Regions from separate parts of the Homo sapiens genome. Here region 1 is linked to region 2. The links come from fine-mapping of genetic effects on gene expression. A gene starts in region 2. The other region holds a variant in brackets. All regions are shown on one strand. Distances are from middle to middle. Region 1 overlaps ZMYM4 (zinc finger MYM-type containing 4). Region 2 holds the start of TFAP2E-AS1 (TFAP2E antisense RNA 1).

What was found. PIP is the estimated chance that this variant, and not a neighbour inherited with it, causes the effect. A credible set is the group of variants that fine-mapping cannot tell apart.
Region 1: its variant is the best candidate, but not a certain one, in a credible set for the expression of TFAP2E-AS1 in whole blood (INTERVAL, PIP 0.79).

Annotation. Positions count from the first base shown.
Region 1 is chr1:35,318,172-35,326,500 of GRCh38, forward strand. ZMYM4 (zinc finger MYM-type containing 4) reads left to right here. Exons shown (of 30, transcript NM_005095.3): 2 at 7,189-7,234. Among named protein-coding and RNA genes, the nearest start is that of ZMYM4-AS1, 44 kb to the right of the region's middle. The variant CTG/C (reference allele first, on the strand shown) is at 3,418.
Region 2 is chr1:35,574,467-35,582,795 of GRCh38, forward strand. TFAP2E-AS1 (TFAP2E antisense RNA 1) reads right to left here and starts at 3,396. Exons shown (of 3, transcript NR_183387.1): 1 at 2,200-3,396; 2 at 1-232. TFAP2E (transcription factor AP-2 epsilon) reads left to right here. Exons shown (of 7, transcript NM_178548.4): 3 at 483-534. RefSeq lists enhancers at 1-299, 1,997-2,849, 2,850-3,702, 2,955-3,044, 3,225-3,294 and 1 more.

The DNA of each region.
Region 1 (8,329 bases), 260 kb before region 2:
CCTCACCCTCCCGAGTAGCTGTGACTACAGGCACGTGCCACCATGCCTGGCAATTTTTGTATTTTTAGTAGAGACAGGGTTTCACCATGTTGGCCAGGCTAGTCTTGAACTCTTGACCTCAGGTGATCCACCCACCTTGGCCTCCCAAAATGCTGGGATTATAGGGGTGAGCCACTGTGCCCGGCTGACAGTTTGTTAAGGCATGGAAAAGTTGCTTATTCTGTATCACAAGTTACATAGGAAAAGACAAAGGCAGGCACTGTCTACTCCTGGTAGGGTTTTTTGTTTTTTTGTTTTTTAATTTGAGGCGAAGTCTCGCTCTGTCACCCAGGCTGGAGTACAGTGGCATAATCTCGGCTCACTGCAACCTCCGTCTCCCAGGTTCAAGTGATTCTTCTGCCTCAGCCTCCCAAATAGCTGGGATTACAGGCATGTGCCACCACACCTGGCTAATTTTTGTATTTTTAGTAGAGACAGGGTTTTACCATCTTGGCCTGGCTGGTCTTGAACTCCTGACCTCAAGTCATCCGCCTGCCTTGGCATACCAAAGTGCTGGGATTACAGGCATGTACCACTGTGCCCAGCCATACTCCTGGTAGATTTTTTACAAATAAATAAAACCCTTTGATTCTCACATTTTAAATTATAACGTAGTAAGCAAATATTAGTTATACAATATTTTTTCATTTCCCTACACATTTAAACTGACACAGTGTTTTTGTTTTTGTTTTTGAGACGGAGTTTCGCTCTTGTTGCCCAGGGTGGAGTGCAGTGGCATGATGTTGGCTCACCACAACCTCCGCCTCCCGGGTTCAAGTGATTCTCCTGCCTCGTGAGTAGCTGGGATTACAGGCATGGGCCATGATGGCCAGCTAATTTTGTATTTTCAGTAGAGACAGGGTTTCTCTATGTTGGTCAGGCTGGTCTCGAACTCCCGACCTCAGGTGATCAGCCCGCCTCGGCCTCCCAAAATGCTGGGATTACAGGTGTGAGCCACCGTGCCTGGCCAAACTGACAGAGTTTTTAACGTTTCAAGTGTTTTGACAAAAAAAGATCATGGAACAATTTTAATTTTTCTCTTTGATCATTAAGATTGCTTTGCATGGTTTCAGCTTGCATAGTCGTTTTTATATTTCTGCGTGGTAGCTGCCTGTATAAAAAATATAATATCGCTGGGTGTGGTGGCTCATGCTTGCATTCCCAGCACTTTGGGAGGCTGAGGTGGGAAGATCACGAGGCCAGGAGTTCAAGACCAGCCTGGGCAATATAGCAATACCCAGTCTCTACAGAAAATTTTAAAAAATTAGCTGGGCGTGGTTGTGCACACCTCTAGTTCCAGCTACTTGGGAGTTGAGGTGGGAGGATCCCTTGAGCTCAGGAGTTTGAGGCTGCAGTGAGCCATGATCATGTTACTGCATTCCAGCCTGGGCAACAGAGCAAGACCCGTCTCAAAAAAATTTTTCCAAAACAAATTTCTCACATTGAGAAACTTGAAAAAAATGATTGTAAAAATCATCAGGATTAATACATTTGAAAAACTAAGGGACATCCAAATCAGAGTAGCAACAGGGAAAGACTAACATTACTCATTGTGGCGGTTGAAGGAATAGGAATAGGATTGGACATTTGATTTGGAGTGGTCTGTTGAAAGTATACAAATTATTTGAAACTTCAGTGGAAACTTTGGGAGTTTTGGAAAATTTAAAGTACACTCTATGGTTAAGTTTTTTAAATAAACAAGTTTCAAACTGCTTATTAACTAATAGAAATGATTCTTTTATTTAGCAAAGACTGAGTTTTTGTTATATTTTACGCAGTGTTGTAGGTGCTAGGCTACTAAATACAGAACAAATAAAAATATCTTTGGGCTAGTGTGATACTGTGATATAATAGGAAATACATATTTGGTTTCTGCCCCAGGTTCCTGGCACACAGCTCCTAAAACTGTTGGAATCTCTGAAGTGATAAGTGTGGATTGTGTACTAATGAGTGACTTGGGCTTAGGGCCAGGCCTTTCCATAGCTTCAGCATGGGGCTGGTCACCAAAAATACCAAGACATGACTAGAGGGCTAAACATCGAGTTGAGCAGCAGTGCCAATGATTTACTCAATCATGGCTGCATAATGAAGCCTCCATAAAAACCCCAAAGGCAAGGTTCAGAAAACTTCCGGATTGCTGAACCACACAGAGGTGCTGGAAAGGTGGCATGCCCAGAGAAGACGTGGGAACTCCATGCCTCTCCCCAGCATGTATCATCCTATGCATCTCTTTCATCAGGTTGTTCACCTGTATCCTTTGTAGTATCCTTTATAATAAACCAGTAAATGTGTTCCCCTGAGATCCATGAGCTGCTTTAGCAAATTAATTGAACCTGAGGTGGGGGTTGCGCACACCCCAAGTTATATAGCTGGCCAGTTACAAGGTCAAGTCACAGCCTGGGGCTTGTGATTGGTATCTGAAGTGGGAGGCAGCCTTGTTGGACTGAGCCTTCAACCTGTGGGATCTTACTCTTAATTCTAGGTAGATAGTGTCAGAATTGAAGTGAATTATAGGACACACAGTTGGTGTCTGCTAGATATTTGGTGTGTGATGAAAAAGTCCCACATATCTGGTCACTGAAATGTTCTGTGTTGCGAGACTGTTATAGCAGAAAAATAATCTTTTGTTTGTTTTTTTCTTCAGGGTGCACTTTTGCCTGCCCTGGCTTTGAGAAGTGTAGGATTTCTAATCCTTTATAGAATCTTGATTTCATTTAGGTTCTATTGAAAGAAACTAACTAGATTGTTTTTTGTTTTTAATTTTTAACATTATTCTAAAGGTCTTTATATAAAGCGCTCCTTTTTATTGATTTTGTGTTTAGTCTCCAAAGTTGGATTAAAACTCAAGGTTTGTATAACCCCTGTTATCTGTCAGCAGGTTGGTCTACAAAAAGAATGGGATATGACCTCATACAGCTTCAGAAACCTGTATGGGTACTTGATTCTTTATAGCATTCCCAACTTGGGAGTAAAGTTATTATAGTTGTTACACAGTCACATTGGTCGTAGTATCACTAGGAAAGAGCTGTGAATTCTACTTTGTTCGGGAAGTTGGGTGTGTGTGGGTTGTGTGTGAGATTATGGTACCATAGAGGAGTAGCAGCTTTAGCTTGAAGCTGAGTATATGTTTACTATTGAATTAAGACTGGAAAAGCTTAAGCACTGTGCACAGTGACCCAGATGCTTGAAACTACCTGAAAGGTTGGGTGAGCAGCTATAGGTTATTTATCATGGCTGGAGCATTTGCTTACAGGATGGGGATGTAATGGGAATGTGAAGGCAGGAAAAGATAAAGCTGTAGAGGAAATTAGGGCTAGATTTTGGAGAGTCTTATATATCCACAGAAGTTTGGACATTTTTCTTGGGAGACTTTCAGAG[CTG/C]TGTGTGTGTGTGTGTGTGTGTCCTTCCCCTTAACCTCTCAGTACCTCCATTTCTTCACCTATAAAATAGAGGTGTTAACAGTACCTACCTTATGAGATTTTTGGGAGATTAAATTGGATTAAATCATATAAAGTACTTGGAAAAAAAGTGTCATAAACTGGGCATGGTGGTGTGTTCCTATAATCCCAGTAACTCATGAAGCTTAGTTGGAAGGAATTAAATTTTAAAAAATTAAATATTTAATTTTTTTAACCTAGTGATCTTTTTTAACCTAGTGATCCCACTTCTAGAAATTGATCCTACAGATATACTCACATACCTAAGCCATATCATATGTATACAGATGACAACTGCAATATTGCATTTAAAAAAAAAAAAGCAGGAGGCAACCTTAAAATGTTCATCAGTATAATATAATAAGAGACTGTGCAGCCACTGGAAAGAATGAAGTAGATCTCTGTATAATTTTCCAAGATATACTATTGGGTTTTTTAAAAACAGGGACATTTCTATGTCTCTCTTCATTTTGTATCTTTACCAGTCTGAGAGAAAATGGTATCTCAATTTTGATTTTGGGTAAGATTGAATGTTTAGTGCTTGTTTATGTTCTTTGATCACTTTCTATTGGGATAGTACTCTTTAATTGAGTCCAAGATTGCTTTATACATAGAATATTAACCATTATTATACTACTACTACAACTTTTTCATTCATATTACCTTTAAGCTTTTCCAAACAATTTTTTAGAAATATAGTCAAACTTTAAAATCTTTTTCATGAAGATCTCTTTTTCTGGTTAAAAGACTTTTCTATCTTCTAGGGCTTTTATTTTTTTTTCAGTTTATTTTTAACTTATCTGGGATTAATGTTGATGTGAAGTAGTGATTGTGATCCAAATTTTTTCACCTTAAATGGTTGTCATCTTCTAGTTCTCTTTTTTCCTTTAGGAGTGAGAATAGATCATTGGGTTTAGCAGTGTGGAGGTCGCTTATGACCTTGACGAGAAAAGTTTCAGTAGAAATAGTGCAGGCAGAAGCCTTACTGAAGTGGGTTCAAGAGACAGGTGTCGTAGGCAGCATGTATAGACAACTTTTTTTTTGTTTTGGTTTTGGTTTTTAGATGTAGTCTTGCCCTGTTGCCCAGGCTGGAGTGCAATGGCGTGATCTCGGCTCACTGTAACCTCCGCTTCCCAGGTTCAAGCGATTCTCCTGCCTCAGCCTCCCAAGTAGCTGGGATTACAGGTGTGTGCCACCATGCCCGGCTAATTTTTTTGTATCTTTAATAGAGATGGGGTTTCACCATGTTGGCCAGGCTGGTCTTGAACTCCTGACCTTGTGATCCACCTGCCTCGGCCTCCCAAAGTGCTAGGATTACAGGCGTGAGTCACCACGCCTGGCTTTTTTGTTTTGTTTTTGTTTTTGTTTTTGAGACGGAATCATGCTTTGTCCCCTAGGCTGGAGTGCAGTGGCACAATCTCGGCTCACTGCAACCTCCACCTCCTGAGTTCAAGTGATTCTCCTGCCTCGCAGCCTCCCAAGTAGCTGGGATTACAGGTGCCCGCCACCACGCCCAGCTAATTTTTGTATTTTCAGTAGGGATGGGTTTTTGCCATGTTGGCCAGGCTGGTCTTGAACTCCTGACTTCAGGTGATCTGCCCACCTTGGCCTCCCAGAGTGCTGGGATTACAGGCGTGAGCCACTGCACCCGGCTGGACAACTCCTTTGAAGAGTTCTGCTGTCAAGGGGAAGAGAAAAATGAGCAGTAGCTCTAGGGGGATAGAGAGTCATGAGAAATATTGTATAAGATGAGAAGGAATAATAGCATCGGGCCTTGGGACAGTATTGTTCAAAAACAAACTGTTATTAAACAATGGGATTCTTCTCAGTGTAGGCAGATGCTTTCATTCTTTGGCTTACAGAGTGACATTTTTCTTCGTTTTTTGTTTTTTGTTTTTTTGGTGTTTTTTTTTTGAGACAGAGTCTCGCTCTGTCGCCCAGGCTGGAGTGCAGTGGCACGATCTCAGCTCACTGCAAGCTCTGTCTCCCAGGTTCATGCCATTCTCCTCATTCTCCTGCCTCAGCCTCCTGAGTAGCGGGGACTACAGGCGCCCACCACCATGTCCGGCTAATTTTTTTGTATTTTTAGTAGAGACGGGGTTTCACCATAATTAGCCAGGATGGTCTCGATTTCCTGACCTCATGATCCACCCGTCTCGGCCTCCCAAAGTGCTGGGATTACAGGCGTGAGTCACCACACCTGGCCCAGAGTGACATTTTTCATTTCCCATTTCCCTTTCATTCTAGAGCCTAGCTCATTGACTGGAATGGTAGGTGGAGTGACCTTCACTATTAGTTTGCTTTCCTTTACTTTCCAATGTTTACATAGTTGAATTTCAAGTTAAATGTGTTTATAAATTACCTGCACTATCATTTAAAAAATTGCTCCTTTTGTTTTCTTTTGGAATTCTGATATATTTTACCAGGATGTATCCTTTTTTTTTGTTATTTCTTTGGTATTTAGTGGGCCCATTCAATCTCAGATATGGTATTTATATCTTCAGTTCAGGGAAATTTTTTTCTGTTATCCCTTTCACCATTATTTTCTTCTTTGGGGGTACCTTTGATATTGCTGTTAGACTTAGTGCTTCAATCCTCCATGTCACATAAATTATCTTTTCCAACTTTTTGTCTAGAGATGAGGTTTCACCATGTTGGCCAGGATGGTCTTGATCTCCTGACCTTGTGATCCGCCCACCTCAGCCTCCCAAAGTGCTGGGATTACAGGTGTGAGCCACTGGGCCCAGCCAAGAAGTTGCTTTTTTATAAGTTACTTGTTTCCTTCTGGAGTGGTGGTTCTGTTTGTTTACCTTGAACTTTCTCTTTCACATAGGTTTCTTTTGGAAACCTGGGATCTTTTATTTTCTCTTCATATTTATGAATATCAGATACTACTGATTACTATAGCTAGCTGTTGTGTTTCCTCTACAGTTATGTAGGTAGCTAGGTAGTTCTTTTTTCCTTAAAAGTCTCTCCCTTGAATGGGGTGGCTGATTCTGGCTTCTTACAGTAGGCAAGGTTTATCAAGAAGCAGCATTTCTTGTGTTCTTGCCTCACTGATGAGTAACAGGCAGGGAAGCAGGAACCTCCAAAGTAAGGAGGCCTTCAGAGACTCAGAGTGAAGTGTGCCATTTTCTTTAGTTCTTTGGTGGAGTTACCGGTGCTTTGCTTTCTTTTCCCTCTGTGTTTAAAGATCTGAAATTACCTCTGACATGGCTCTACTTCTGTCTTAGGCACTAACGTACTCAGTAGGAACCATCCCTATAACAGGCCTCACTTTCAATTTAAGAGCAGCATGTTTTTGGCTTTAGCTTAAGAGCAAAAGCTGTTAATTTTTCTGTTCAGTTTTGATGGGAAGTTTTACATAGTTCTCGGTGTTAGTAAGTTCTTATGAAGCGTTAGCTGTGTTTACTGTTATTAAAATATATATGATCATCTCTTTTGTGACATGAATGATTAAAAAAATAAGTAGTTGTTTATAGTGAGAGGATGTGATTTATCTCTTAGTTTTTGGTTTGGGGCTTTGGTCTGAGAACTACTTTGGTTCATCCTAAATTTTATTTTACTCTATTTGGCAATGTTTTTGTTTATATTGTGCACTTGTCATTTGGGTTGAAAATTACAGCTCCTTGGGGAATAGGGAGGGATACCAAAAGAATGTATGATAGAAGATATGATGGTAATGTTACTTTTTCCTTTTTTGCTTTTCCAGTTTGAACAAAAAAGTGGTGCAGTTTTTGATGAAATTGTAGAGAACTGTAAGTACCATTTGAGAAAAAACAATCATGTCTTTAGATAGAAAATGAATGTTAATCTAGATGTGGTATTTAACTATTACAGTGTTTAGTTAGGGCTGATTTATGTGATGGTTCAATCTGATTTAGTCTAGATCTCATCACGTACTGTTCTTTCAGCAGGTTAATCTGAATTGTAAGAATCTTATTCTTTTTTTCAATAAATATTTTATTCTCATAGTTATCATATTAAAATATAGCCATACTTCGTGTCTATATGGAAGATTATACTTACCACTATTAAGGGTTTCTACTTGGGTTAAGGTCTTTTATTTTCTTTTAAAATTCTTTTTGTGTTATCGTATTTTTAGAAATAATTTGTTTTTTATGATTATAAAAGTAATACATTCAATTTTACAATACAGAAATGAATAAAATAGAAAGTAAAAGTCTTTGTCATTACCATTCTCCAAAGATAACCAGTTTTAAAAGTTTAACATATATATCTTTCCAGACTTTTTTCTATGAGTGTATATAGCTATACATGGTGTATGGAGATTTATATATGTGTGTAGGAATCATAGATACTGTTCTTGCTTTTTTTCATTCAACTGCGTAGACATCTTTCTGTGTCAATGGATATAGACCTGTTGCACCCTTTTTAATGGCTACTCAGTATTTTATTGTATGGCTGTATAATAAGTCCTCACTAAATGTTGTTGATATGTTCTTGGAAATTGTGACTTTAGGTGAAATGACATATAATGAAACCAATTTTACCATAAGTTTAAATTGATAGAAGTAAGAGTTAAGTTCCTGTGGCATATTTTTAGTCACAAAAACACCATCAAACTTCTAAATAAAGATCTGAAACACTTCTAATATTAAACATTGAAATAAATGTGAGCTATACATGCATACAAGAAAGATTAATAAAAACAAGTAAGATAATTATTTACCCAGTTTTTGGTGAATCAGCGAGTGATGGTGCTTGTAGTGGTGGTTGGTTAACTTAAGGAATAAATGTTTGCAAAGCAAACATTGTCAAGAGCACCTCCTACCACCATGCAGTTCAGAAACAAACAATAATAAACATGATGGGCTCACTGAGTGCATCAT
Region 2 (8,329 bases):
GCTGGAGGCAGAAGGTGACAAATGCAGGAAGCCGACTTTTCTCCCAGCTCGCCACATCTCACTGGTGACTCCGAGGATGTGTCCCACCTCCTGGGTTAGACGTTGCCTGGCCATCAAGGCTGCCTGGCACTGAGTCCGCCAGCAGTGCGTGGGTGGCAGCAACCCTCGGCAGGGACCGAATCACTTCTTTTCTCCCCGCTGCCACGTGTGGCATCCATGGGGCAGCCTGCACCTGGGGCGAAGAGAAGCATAATAGTTACCAGTGTAAGATTCAAAATTCCCTTTTTGCACTGCACAGTGAGATGCCCAGGGCTCCAGCTCAGTGCCTGGACATAGCGATTCCTGGGCCTGCCCGTCGCCGCCCCAAGCGAAGCTGGTGCGCCTTGGGCGGAGCAGACAGAGACCCTGGGTGGCAGGGGCTTGGGAAGACATGGGCGGCTAGGGCTTTATGCGCCCTCACCGCTGCCCTCTGCTATTTGCAGGCAATGGACGAGCCGGGAATGAGCCTCCTAGACCAGTCCGTGATCAAGAAAGGTAAGGAATGGTCTGTCAGGGCAGAGCCCGGCGAGATGGTGCAGGCCCTTGGTGCACAGATCCATTTTCTTCACCGGCCGTGCCTCCTGTGTGTCGCCAGGCTGGGTGTCCACCAGGCACTCTTCCTGGCCCAGCCAGATGTTAGGCAGACGTGCGGGCTTGGTGAGTTTGCCCAGCACCCTGTGGCCTGGGGTGGGCCTCAGCGGATCAGCATTCACTGGGCTGCAGCACTGGGAGCCTGGCCTCTCCCCGCCGAGGGGGAGGGCACTCTTGTGGATCTGGAGTTGATTTGCAGAACGAGTTAAACCACTTCCCTGTTTCCCTAAGAGATGGGAATGGAAGTGCTGTTCCCACGGAGTTGGGGAAATGATTTTCACTTTACAGTGCCTTAGCATTTCGGTGCCTGGCGGGCACTTTCTTCCTCTTCCTTCCAGGCAGGGCCTTGGAGGCCTCTGGGGGAATTTTCTTTCTGTGGGAGTCTCTTGCGGCATTTAGACTTAGGGGAGCTTGTGTGTGAGTACTGTGTGTTAGGCTGTGTGCACCTGAGTCAGGGCCCACCTGCTCCTGGGTGTCTGTGTCCATGTGAGTTCAGGGTCCTGTGCATGTCTGAAATGTTCCCTTCATGGGTGTCTTAGTATTTCTTGGAGTGTGAGTGTGTCTGTTTCTGTGAATGTGTTTGTGAGGTGTGTCTCTGTATGTTGGTGTGCATTTCTCTGCATTTGGGGGATGTACACATTTCTCAATATGTACAGTATCTCTGTTGTGTCCTGCACTTTGTTCTTTGGTATCTGAGGATTTCCAAGCATGCGCGGGCCCTCTCTGTGTATATATAGGAGTATTTATGTGACTCCTGGCATTAGTAAAATCCAGGGACACGGGATCCACCTTTTCTGGCCTGAGGACCAAGTACTGGCCATGACAGGGGAAGGTGAGAGACGACAAAAACAGAGAGACAGCCAGAGAGGAGCAGAGAGTCAGAGGGGCCCAGGCATTGGGTAGCAGCCTCTTTACATTTGGGGCAGGTGCCCGAAAGAATTCAGAGGTGCACATGAGCCTGAGGTGCCCCAGGCAGGCACTGCTCCCACAGGGTTTGGCTTGAGTTGTTTTTCAAACGAGTGAATTCAAGCCTGGGCTCTATTTGCCCTCCACTTGTTCTCAGGGGAGGCCAAGGTGGAAGTGGTGGTAGCAGGGCTGGGGCTGGACTTCCAGGAGCTGGGGCTGAGTTACCAGGAGCTGGGGGTTGGGTGGATGACTTGGAGTGTGTAGCAGGGAAGATGAGGCAACAGGGCAGGAAGTGGGTGGGGGGAGGTGGAATTGGGGCTGTGTCCTGTGTCGCTTGGAACTGGGAGTGTGGGAAAGACACTAGGAACCTGGTTGCAGCGCAGCTCTGCTGGTGGGGCTTGGTTGGCTTACTGTACAGAGCCTTTCTTGACCCCTGAAGAAAGAGATCCGTCTGCAGTGGGCAAAAGCCTGCCTGGACTTCCTGGCCACCAGAAATATGAGCATGGTGGTGGTCCCCAGTTCCCTATTCATGCTTGGGCTCAAGAGACTGGGAGTCTAGGTTCACTGACTCCCTGAGAAAGACTAAGACCCTGCATTTTAGAAAGAGGTTTGGGGATCTCTGCCCTGCGCAAGGGTAGAAGGATCAGCTGTTCCTCTGAGCACCTTAACCCGGAACCCCGGTCCGAAGCCGAGACAGGAGACTGGATGCGAGGCCCTCCCAGAGCTGGTTTCTCTCAAACAACTTCCAAAACTCCTAGATCCTAGGGGTACGCCGAAATCCCCCAAAGCAGTCCAAAGAACACAACGAGAGTCCTAACATCCCAGGTGGCGGCGCGCTGGCTCCCTGGAGCGGGGCGGGACGCGGCCGCGCGGACTCACGTGCACAACCGCGCGGGACGGGGCCACGCGGACTCACGTGCACAACCGCGGGACCCCAGCGCCAGCGGGACCCCAGCGCCAGCGGGACCCCAGCGCCAGCGGGACCCCAGCGCCAGCGGGACCCCAGCGCCAGCGGGACCCCAGCGCCAGCGGGACCCCAGCGCCAGCGGGTCTGTGGCCCAGTGGAGCGAGTGGAGCGCTGGCGACCTGAGCGGAGACTGCGCCCTGGACGCCCCAGCCTAGACGTCAAGTTACAGCCCGCGCAGCAGCAGCAAAGGGGAAGGGGCAGGAGCCGGGCACAGTTGGATCCGGAGGTCGTGACCCAGGGGAAAGCGTGGGCGGTCGACCCAGGGCAGCTGCGGCGGCGAGGCAGGTGGGCTCCTTGCTCCCTGGAGCCGCCCCTCCCCACACCTGCCCTCGGCGCCCCCAGCAGTTTTCACCTTGGCCCTCCGCGGTCACTGCGGGATTCGGCGTTGCCGCCAGCCCAGTGGGGAGTGAATTAGCGCCCTCCTTCGTCCTCGGCCCTTCCGACGGCACGAGGAACTCCTGTCCTGCCCCACAGACCTTCGGCCTCCGCCGAGTGCGGTACTGGAGCCTGCCCCGCCAGGGCCCTGGAATCAGAGAAAGTCGCTCTTTGGCCACCTGAAGCGTCGGATCCCTACAGTGCCTCCCAGCCTGGGCGGGAGCGGCGGCTGCGTCGCTGAAGGTTGGGGTCCTTGGTGCGAAAGGGAGGCAGCTGCAGCCTCAGCCCCACCCCAGAAGCGGCCTTCGCATCGCTGCGGTGGGCGTTCTCGGGCTTCGACTTCGCCAGCGCCGCGGGGCAGAGGCACCTGGAGCTCGCAGGGCCCAGACCTGGGTTGGAAAAGCTTCGCTGACTGCAGGCAAGCGTCCGGGAGGGGCGGCCAGGCGAAGCCCCGGCGCTTTACCACACACTTCCGGGTCCCATGCCAGTTGCATCCGCGGTATTGGGCAGGAAATGGCAGGGCTGAGGCCGACCCTAGGAGTATAAGGGAGCCCTCCATTTCCTGCCCACATTTGTCACCTCCAGTTTTGCAACCTATCCCAGACACACAGAAAGCAAGCAGGACTGGTGGGGAGACGGAGCTTAACAGGAATATTTTCCAGCAGTGAGCAGGGGCTGTATGGGACGCGGGAGGAGCTCAGAGGAGGCGCGGAGAGTGCCCGAGGTTGGGTGAGTGCCTAGAGGGGAGATAGTTGAACCGGGTTCAAGAGGTGCTTAGTGGGTGTTTGTTGAATGAATGAGTGATGGGCTTTGAAGTCTGAGTGCATTGAAAGAGGGGGTGTGTAAAAAGGGCTCCTTTCATCACACAGGACACAGCATATGCAAATCCTCTCCCTGTGGAAAAGCCAGACAGGTTAAAAAGGTTACAAACAAATTAGCCGGGCATGGTGGTGCGCGTCTGTAGTCCCAGCTACTAGGGAGGCTGAGCCAGGGGAATCGCTTGAACCCGGGAGGCGGAGATTGCAGTGAGCCAAGATCGCGCCACTGCACTCCAGCCTGGAAACAGAGCGAGACTCCGTCTCGGAAAAAAAAAAAAAAAGTTACAAACCGTGTGTGGGTTTCAGGTTATACAATCAGAGCTGGAGGGGAGTGGTCAAGGATGAGAACTGAGATGGATCCCTCGTTCCCTCTGGAGGAGAGTGGGTGGTTGCCTACTTGGGGGTGGGGAATCCCTCTCCACGGGCTCAGCTGTCCAATCTCAGGGGATCTCTAGGACAGGAGCTGATGTAAACAGTCGCCCTATTCCTTGCTGTCTTTGGCCCTGGAGAAGGAGGAGGGAGCTGGGGAGGGTCTCCACTTCCCAGACAATCTCTAAGCAGCCAGGACATGGGTGAGATGAGTGAGATACTGACTTCTGGGACAGAATTTGAGAGGGTGCCAAAAAACTCAGTAATCAAGATAAATAGGCCGGGCGCAGTGGCTCACGTCTGTAATCCCAGCACTTTGGGAGGCCGGATCACTTGAGGTCAAGAGTTCGAGACCAGCCTGGCCAAGATGGTGAAACCCCATCTCTACTAAAAATACAAAAATTAGCCCAGTGTGGTGGCGCTAGCCTGTAATCCCAGCCACTCAGGAGGCTGAGGCAAGAGAATTGCTTGACCCAGGAGGCAGAGGTTGCAGTGAGCCGAGATCATGCCACTGTACTCCAGCCTGGACAACAGAGGGAGACTATCTCAAAAAAAAAAAAAAAAAAAAAAAAAAAAAAGAGGCCGGGCGGCGGTGGCTCACACCATGTGATCCCAGCACTTTGGGAGGCCGAGGCGGGTGGATCACCTGAGGTCTGGAGTTCGAGACCAGCCTGGCCAATATGGTGAAACCCCGTTTCTACTAAAAATACAAAAATTAGCTGGGTGGGGTGGCAGGCACCTGTAATCCCAGCTACTCCGGAGGCTGAGGCAGGAGAATCCCTTGAACCTGCGGGGCGGAGGTTGCAGTGAACCAAGATCACACCATTGCACTCCAGCCTGGACAACAACAGCAAAACTCTGTCTCAAAAAAAAAAAAAATCTTTTTTTTCGAGACACAGTTTTACTCTCTCGCCCAGGTTGGGGTGCAGCACCACGATCTCAGCTCACTGCAACCTCTGCCTCTCAGATTCTCGTACCTCAGCCTCCCAAGTAGCTGGGATTACAGGTACCTGTCACCACGCCCAGCTAATTTTTGTATTTTTAGTAGGGGCGTGGTTTCACCATGTTGGCCAGGCTGGTCTTGAACTCCTGACCTCAAGTGACCTGCCCGCTTCAGCCACCCAAAGTGCTGGGATTACAGGCGTGAGCCACCACGCTTGGCCTTTTTAAATGAAAATAGTGCAAAAATCCACGATAAACAAAATATCAAAAATTTACTGAACTTGCACTTCCACAACCCTTTCTCACCTGCCTCCCAGGCTACTCTCTGCCCCAGAAAGCAACTTAAAAAATGTGCAGATGGAGTTTGGACTTTACCTGAAAATGGTGGGAGCTATGGAAAACCTTGGAGCAGGGGAGTGAAGGATAGAAATTATATGTAAAAGAAACCCTGGGCCGGGCGCAGTGGCTTATGCCTGTAATCCCAGCACTTTGGGAGGCCGAGGCAGGTGGATTACCTGAGGTCAGGAGATTGAGACCAGCCTGACCAACATGGTGAAATGTCATCTCTACTAAAAATACAAAAAAAATTAGCCAGGCATGGTGGTGCACGCCTGTAGTCCCAGCTACTCCGGAGGCTGAGACAGGAAAATCGCTTGAACCCGGGAGGCGGAGGTTGCAGTGAGCCAAGATTGTGCCATTGCACTCCAGCCTGGGCAACAAGAGCAAAACTCCATCTTAAAAAAAAAGAAAGAAAGAAACCCTCTGGCAGTTGATGAGAAGGAAACTTAATCGGCAGGTCCCAGCAGGGGAGATGAGGAGACTCTAGGGAGGGCATTTGCACATGCTGTGCCCCAGTGTGGGCCAGGGAGCAGGTCACTACTCCTCCCGTCTACCTTCCTCTTGCTCCAACCCCTTCAAGCTTTGGACCAGTGGTACCCTAAGTGTAGTCCAAGGAACCACATGCATCAGGACCCCCAGGGGGTGCTTGTTAAAAATGCAAATTTTGGCCAGGTGCAGTGGCTCACACCTGTAATCCCAGCACTTTGGGAGGCCGAGGCGGGTGGATCACGAGGTCAGGAGATCGAGACCATCCTGGCAAACACGGTGAAACCCCATCTCTACTAAAAAAACAAAAACAAACCAAAAAAAACATTAGCTGGGCGTGGTGGCGGGCGCCTGTAGTCCCAGCTACTCGGGAGGCTGAGGCAGGAGAATGGCGTGAACCCGGGAGGCGGAGCTTGCAGTGAGCTGAGATTGCGCCACTGCACCCCAGCCTGGGCGACAGAGCGAGACTCTGCCTCAAAAAAAAAAAAGCAAATTTCTTGGGCACCACCCCACATTGACTGCATGAGAACCCCTGGAAGTATGGCCCTGGAACTTGCATTTTTTAACGATTTTTTGAGGTAAAATTTACATACCTAAAATTTACACATTGTAAGAATATAATTTGATGATTTTTAGTAAATGTAGAGTTGTGTAACCATTACCACAAAAAAATCCATTTTGAGGCATTTCTGCCATCCCCAGAAGTTCCCATTTGTAGCTACTCTCCATTCTCACCCCAAGCCTTAGGCCACCACTGATCTGCTTTCTGTCCATAAATTTGCATATTCTGGACATGTTCTATAAATAGAATATATAAATATGCAGACTTTTGCATCAAGCGTCTTTTGCTTAGCATAATATTTTTGAGGCTCGCCCCAAACATTATGCTAAGTAAAAGAAACAGCAATAAAAAGAAACAAACTATTATCAGCAGTTTGTTTCTTTTTATTGCTTCATAGTATGCCATTGTACGGGTGTAACATATTTTGTTTATCCATTGGTCAGTTGACGGGCACTTGGGTTGTTTCCACTTTTTAGCTGTCTTAAATAATGTTGCTATGAACATTCACATACATGCCTTACTATAGAAATATATTTTTAGCGCTTTTGAGTAAACTCCTAGGAGTGCAATTGCTGGATTATATGGTCGGTTTAGGTTTAATTTTTAAGAAACTGTCAAGCTATTTTCTAAAGTGGCTGTATTATTTTGCATTCTCACCAGCAATGTGTGAGGGTTCCACTTTTCCACATCCTACACTTAGAATTGTCTTTTTTTTCTTTTTTTTTTTTTGAGATGGAGTTTCACTCTTGTTGCCCAGGCTGGAGTGCAATGAGGTGATCTCGGCTCACCGTAACCTCTGCCTCCTGGGTTCAAGTGATTCTCCTGCCTCAGCCTCCTGAGTAGCTGGGATTACAGGTGCGTGACACCACGTCCGGCTAATTTTGTTTTTTTAGTAGAGACGGGGTTTCTCCATGTTAGTCAGGCTGGTCCTGAACTCCCGACCTCAGGTGATCCACCCGCCTTGGCCTCCCAAAATGCTGGGCTTACAGGTATGAGCCACCATGCCTGGCCTTTTTTATTTATTTATTGTTTTGAGATGGATTGTCTCTCTGTCACCCAGGCTGGAGTGCAGTGGCACAATCTCGGCTCACTGCAACTTCTGCCTCCTGGGTTCAAGCAATTCTCCTGCCTCAGCCTCCCCAGTAGCTAGGATTATAGGCACGCACCACCACACCCAGCTAATTTTTGTATTTTTAGTTGAGACGGGGTTTCACCACGTTGGACAGGCTGGCTGGTCTCGAACTCCTGATCTCATGATCCATCCACCTCAGCCTCCCAAATTGCTGGGATTACAGGCATGAGCCACCGTGCCTGGCCCCTGTCTTTTTTATTATAACCATCAAGTGGTATCTCAGTATAGTTTTAATTTGCATTTCCCTAATGACTAATAATGTTAAGAACTTTTTCATGTACTTATTTAACCATTCATCTCTCATTTTTAGTGAAATGTCTATTTACATATTTGGACCATTTTCTATTTAGGTTGCTATCTTATTGTTGAGTTATAATAGTTCTTTATATAATATATTCTGAATACAGTCCTTTATCAGATATATGATTTGAAAATATTTTCTTCCAGTTTGTGGTTTATCGTTTTCTTTTCTATTTTTAAAATTTTAATTTTTTTTTTGCATTTTTAAAAATTATCTTTTTTTTTTTTTTCATAGAAACAGGGTCCCGCTATGTTGCCCAGGCTGGTCTCAAACTCCTGGCTTCCAGTGATCCTCCTGTCTTGGCCTCCCTAAGTGCTAGGGTTACAGGAGTGAGCAACTGCTCTCTTTTTTTTTTTTAATTAAAAAACTTTTTAGAGATAGGTCTCACTAAGTTGTTCAAGCTGGAGTTTGGTGGCTATTTACAGGCAAGATCATAGCACACTGCACCCTCGAACTCCTGAACTCAAGTGATCCCCCTGCCTGAGCCTCTCGAGTAACTGGG